2 linked regions of the Homo sapiens genome follow. The protein of the gene in region 1 interacts with the protein of each later gene in a pairwise test. Each region holds a gene or a part of one and is shown on either strand. Other genes may lie near its edges.

What was found. Proteins that work in one complex are often made in the same cells at the same time.
Region 2: the proteins of KRTAP3-3 (region 1) and NUFIP2 interact in binary tests that used the Homo sapiens proteins (3 or more experiments, as listed by UniProt).

Annotation. Positions count from the first base shown.
Region 1 is NC_000017.11:40,992,930-40,995,438, reverse strand, and holds KRTAP3-3 (keratin-associated protein 3-3), read left to right. Parts: upstream 1-1,274; 5' UTR 1,275-1,341; coding exon 1,342-1,638; 3' UTR 1,639-2,009; downstream 2,010-2,509. UniProt on the Homo sapiens protein: In the hair cortex, hair keratin intermediate filaments are embedded in an interfilamentous matrix, consisting of hair keratin-associated proteins (KRTAP), which are essential for the formation of a rigid and resistant hair shaft through their extensive disulfide bond cross-linking with abundant cysteine residues of hair keratins.
Region 2 is NC_000017.11:29,287,649-29,291,148, reverse strand, and holds part of NUFIP2 (FMR1-interacting protein NUFIP2), read left to right. Parts: intron 1-114; exon of another isoform or gene 115-371; intron 372-3,432; coding exon 3,433-3,500. UniProt on the Homo sapiens protein: Binds RNA.

The DNA.
Region 1 (2,509 bases):
ACTTGAATTTTAGTTTTGTATTCTTAAGTTATTATTTTATTTAGTCTATATAGACAGAAGCTAAAAATTCAATTTGCCCACAATTAGCAGTGAAGGAAACAAAGCAAGCCAACTCTCAATAGAAGACAGATGGCCAATATGCATATGAAGGAATATTTCAACCTAGCTGGTTATAAAAGAAATACAGACACAACAATCATAAAATTGTGTTTTTCACCAATGAAATTGGAAAACACCTTTAAAATAAAGTATCTGTCAAAGGTATACGAAATGGGAATTCTTAATCAAACACATCTGGTGGAAATAGATAATTTGAAAAAAAAAGTAGGTAAATAGAACCATTCTGAAAAACAGTATGGCAATGATATGAAAGGCCTTAAAAATACTGGAAATTAACATTTGCCCCTATAATTCTACCAAATAATTAATTCTGTTTCTGAAATAATCAAAAATATGCACAAAGATTTACATACAGAGGTGCTCTGTTGCCAAAATTATTGTAGAGAAAAGTGGAAAATAACCTCAATGCATAATAATATAAAATTTTAAAGTAACATAGAAGTGCAATTATATAATAAATGCTAAGAAATATTAAAAGTAACACTATCAAATATCCTTTAAAATATAAGATAATTATATATATATATAATATATATGCACACACACAAAGGCAAGTTTCAGAACCTATGCACAATATGATTCCAGTAATGTAATGTAATGATAAACAATGTATACAAAATATTTTGTAGTAAAAAACTAGAATAATAAGCGTTTTTTAAAGTTTTTCCATATTTCTTAATGGCATATTTCTTCATGTTAATGTAATTTTGATCTTCAAAAGCCTCAAAGCTAAAAGAAAGTAAAATTAAGTTCAACTCTTTAAAACAAGAATACTTTATCAGACAAATTGGTATAGATAAAGTGACAGATTAAAAATAAAGCAGCACTGGAGAGCAGGCCCACATATTACAGACTCACTGTCATGCAATATTCCCCAGCAGGGCTGGTGTTGAAAATATAATAACAGAAGGCTTTGGTGATACCTCATAAAGCTTGTGTTCCAGTGACAAATAGCAAGGGTAATCAGTTCAGATTTAGCAACGAACTCAAATAAAAGTTAATTAGGAAAATGGGGACTCTTTACAGAGTCTAAATGTCAAACAAATTAAAGAATAATGGGTACACTAACATAAACAAGAACCAGGAAAGAAGCCTCTTGGCTGGACCAACTCCCAGTGGAGAGGGTACATAAGAGCCCCAGAGAAAGGAGAGATATTCACACCTCAGAAGCCTTATCCTTCTTTTCAATCAAACCCATAAATACCACAGACTCTAATAGCCATGGATTGCTGTGCCTCTCGAGGCTGCAGTGTCCCCACCGGGCCTGCCACCACCATCTGCTCCTCTGACAAATCCTGCCGCTGTGGAGTCTGCCTGCCCAGCACCTGCCCACACACAGTTTGGTTACTGGAGCCCACCTGCTGTGACAACTGTCCCCCACCCTGCCACATTCCTCAGCCCTGCGTGCCCACCTGCTTCCTGCTCAACTCCTGCCAGCCAACTCCAGGCCTGGAGACCCTCAACCTCACCACCTTCACTCAGCCCTGCTGTGAGCCCTGCCTCCCAAGAGGCTGCTAATGGATGGCTACTTTGCTCAGTGCCTGAGATTGAAAAAGTCAACATAGAAGCTTTAGCATTCACCTATCTCAGTACCTACAACTAATGTACTCTGCTTTAGAAATTGGAACAAGGATGGTACTACCACAATCACCCCCTGCAAAAAAAAAGAGACCAAGAAACTTTCAATGACCATTCAGCTATAACCAACTGCAGTTTGAATCAGTGGATGCCTATAGCTTCCTGAAGCTGTTCGATTCCTTCATATTAAAGTGTCTCTTTCTGTGGGTGGTTTGGGAATTCTGTTTTCAGTCTTGGGTGGTATCTTTCTGAAAATTAAGGAAGTTCTTCATGATTATCCTAATAAATTTTACATCTCTGGCATAGCACAAGTGTCTACAATTACTTCTGTTTATTTCTGTTCATTCATTAAATGCGTTTCTTAACTCTGAACATTGGCATTTAAAGAAAAACTGGAAACATTAGTGAAACTGAAAATGGTGGCAGTATGGACAAAAATTTCTTAATTTTGCTGTTCTTGCTGTTTTAAGAAAATTAAACATCCTTGCATGTAAGATGGTCTAGTACATCGGCATATTTGAAAGTAGACTTTTCCTGACTTGTCCTCCCAAAAAATGGTTTCAGACAGGTTGAGAAATACTGAACATTACCCAAACACCAAATATGACAAAATATATAAACTAATCCAGGTGACATGATCTATTTATGAAAAAAATATAATAATGTCATTATTTATTCAACTAAGATTTATTAAATGTCTATTGTGTGTCCTGTGTTTTATTGTCTCTGCTGAAAATAAGCTAACCATCTGGCAGGTGAAGCAAATACAAACACAACATCCATTTGTTTCTTCCTACGGTTAATAATTATC
Region 2 (3,500 bases), about 12 Mb from region 1:
CTATTTAAAAAGAAAATTTCTTTCCAGCATACTTCATACATATCACAAGGTTGTCATGAGAAAAACTTTATGTAGTTAAACAAGATTTTCTTTTCTTTTTTTTTTTTTTTTTTGTTATTAAAACTTGCGGGCGGGAGCACAGTGGCTTCTAAGCCGTTTTTTCATTGTTTGGTGATTTCCAGTATCTGAGTCGCTACATACTAGTAATCTTAGGAAGAATTATTCTTGTTAGCTTTGGTTCAGCTCAGTTTGGAGATTGGATTTTTTGCTATTTCAGATTGCTCATCTTTAATTGAAATCTGAAAAGTTGTGACTAATGGGCCCAAGGATACAAACCTTTGTTTAACCTGTTAGCATATTAAATGATACAGGTAGGTCTTATCCAGAGTTAGGTAAGGAGATAAAGTTATATCTGTTAAAAATGATGAGAAGAGCCTTTATTTAGGAACTTTATGCTTTTCTTTCTTTCTTTCTTTCTTTCTTTTTTTTTTTTTTGAGACACAGCCTTACTCTGTGGCCCAGGCTGGAGTGCAGTGCAGTGGCATGATCTCGGCTCACTGCAACCTCTGCCTCCTGGATTCAAGCGAATCTCCTGTCTCAGCTGGGATTACAGGCATATGCTACCATGCCCAGCTGATTTTTTTTTTCTTTTTTTTAGTAGAGATAGGACTTCACCATGTTGGCCGGACTGGTCTCAAACTCCTGACCTCAAGTGATCCACCTGCCTGGGATCCTAAAGTGCTGGGATTACAGATGTGAGCCACTGTGCCTGGGATTTTTCTGAGGAAAAAAGCTTTTAGAAAACATCCTAAGCAATAATCTCTTTCTTGCTGTTTCATAGTTAAAATTGTGCCACCAAAAATTTGATTTGATTGGCTATCATAGCTTTTCCAGCAGCCAAAAAATTTTTAAAAATGTAACCCTGTGGAATCTAAGAACTCTTAAGAGTTCTAAGAAATCTAAGAGGCCGGTGTGGTGGCTCTCACCTGTAATCCCAGCACTTTGGGAGGCCCAGGCGGGCAGATCACTTGAGGTCAGGAGTTCGAAACCAGCCAGGCCAACGTGGCGGAACTGGGCATCGTGGTGCATGCCTGTAATCCCAGCTACTCTGGAGGCTGAGTCAGGAGAATCTGGGAGGCGGAGGTTGTGGTGAGCTGGGATCACATCACTGCACTTCAACCTGGGCCACAGAGCGAGAATCTGTCTCAAAAAAAGAAAAAAAATAACTGTTATAAGATGTATTCTCTCGTGGTACAAGTTTTGTGCCAGTCTGTTTTAGGAATGATTATGCCTTGAGTATGTTTTCTTGGGTTACTTTAATACAGGAGAAGAAAATGCCTTTATTTGTTCAGTTTTAGTATTTGTACTTTTTTTTCTAATGTAGAATGAGTAAGTCCTGTTGTGAATCTAATAGACTTCTCCATTAATTTATTTTGGAACAATGGTTCTCAGACTTATAAAAATGGCAGTATTCCTATTAGACTCCTCACTTCCTGCTGCCTTAAATGTGTGTGGAGTGTCCTTCTATTGTGTATCTTTCTTTTTTCTTTTTTTTGGAAGTGGAATTTTGCTCTTGTTGCCCAGGCTGGGGTGCAGTGGCCCAATGTGGGCTCACTGCAACCTCTGCCTCCCGGATTCAAGCCATTCTCCTGCCTCAGCCTCCCAAGTAGCTGGGATTACAGGCGTGCACCACCATGCCTGGCCAATTTTGTATTTTTAGTAGAGACGGGGTTTCACCATGTTGGTCAGGCTGGTCCTGAACTCCTGACCTCAAATGATCCACCCACCTTGGCCTCCCAAAGTGCTGGGATTATAGGCATTAGCCACTGCACCCGGCCTGTATATCTGTTTCTAATGACTTGACCTCAAGATGCTTTTATGAACATTTCATAAAAAGGTAGATAACTAATAGCACCATTTTGTTACAGTGGAAAACTATTTGAATCACCTATAATAGAATTGACTTTTTATGGTAGTTGAAGGTTTTTTTTTCTTTTCTTCTTGAAAGAGGGTCTCACTTTGTCACTCAAGCTAGAAGGCAGTTGTGCCATCTCAGTGCATGTTCACTGCAGCCTCGACCTCCTGGGTTCAAGCTATCCTCCTCCCTCAGCTCCCCCAGCTGGGAGTATAGGCACATGCCCCACGCCCAGCTAATTTTTGTATTTGTAGTAGAGACAGGGTTTCTCCATGTTGCCCAGGCTGGTCTTGAACTCCAGCAGTCTGCCTGCCTTGGCCCTCCCAAAGTGCTATGTTTACAGACATGATCCACTGGCAGTTGAAGACTTTTAATTAAACCTGAATACCATAACACTAAAAAATTGGATTCTTTTTATTGTTGTTTTGTTAGTAAATATTTTCTCATTGCATCTTTTGAGTCAAGGCAGTATTACATAGTGATAGGAAACCATGGATTGCAGATAGACTGGCGGTCAGATTTCCAGTTCTGTCACTTTGACTTGGGCAATTTACTTCATCTCTCTTAAAGTCTTTTTATCTAAATGTAAAATGAAGAAAGTATGTTTTATAAAGGTTGGAAACATTGGTACGTAGATATTTTGGTTTCACGTATTAACAATATCCAATATCTGGGAAATGTCAAAATGAAATTTAAGAATACTTTAGAAAAAGTTGACAAGTGTTAGATATTTGTCTGATAGATGCCTTGGAAACTGCTGATAGTGACTACCAGCTATTTATGGTTTTGTAGAAATGAAGTCTTTAATTTCCTTGTAATAATTACTGTTTCAATAAAACTTGATTTTTGCCCAGAGGGCATCTCTGCTCTGAATTGTAAAGAAAATTTTAGGCCGGGCGTGTGGCTCACGCCTGTAATCCTAGCACTTCGGGAGGCCGAGACGGGCGGATCACAAGGTCAGGAGATCGAGACCATCCTGGCTAACATGGTGAAATCCTGTCTCTACTAAAAATACAAAAAGAATTAGCCGAGCGTGGTGGTGGGCGCCTGTAGTCCCAGCTACTCTGGAGGCTGAGGCAGGAGAATGGCGTGAGCCCGGGAGGTGGAGCTTACAGTGAGCGGAGATAGCGCCACTGCACTCCAGCCTGGGCGACAGAGTGAGACTCCGTCTTGAAAAAAGAAAATTTTATAACAGCCTTGTGAGAGTGATGGGTAGATTGATTCTGTTAGATGAGAGGTATTTGGCATACTGCTTAAGAGGTCTTGTCTTCTCTGGCCTCAGACTTTGGTTTGAATCTTCGCTGAGTTCTACCTCTTGCTTTGCTTAGCAGTAGGTTGCATTTCCTAGTCTGTAAAATGGGGCTGACAGGTGTCTTCTCATAGAGATGTGAAATAATATAAAGCTACAGCTCATAGCATAGTGTCTAGCATACAGTAAATAGTTCTTAAATGTTAGGTATTAGTGTAATTTACATGTTGTGATTTTTTTTTTTAATCCTTTTTTTCCCCTCCCCTAGGCTATGGTGAACTAAACGGTAATGCTGGAGAAAGAGAAATATCTTTAAAGAACCTGAGTTCTGATGAA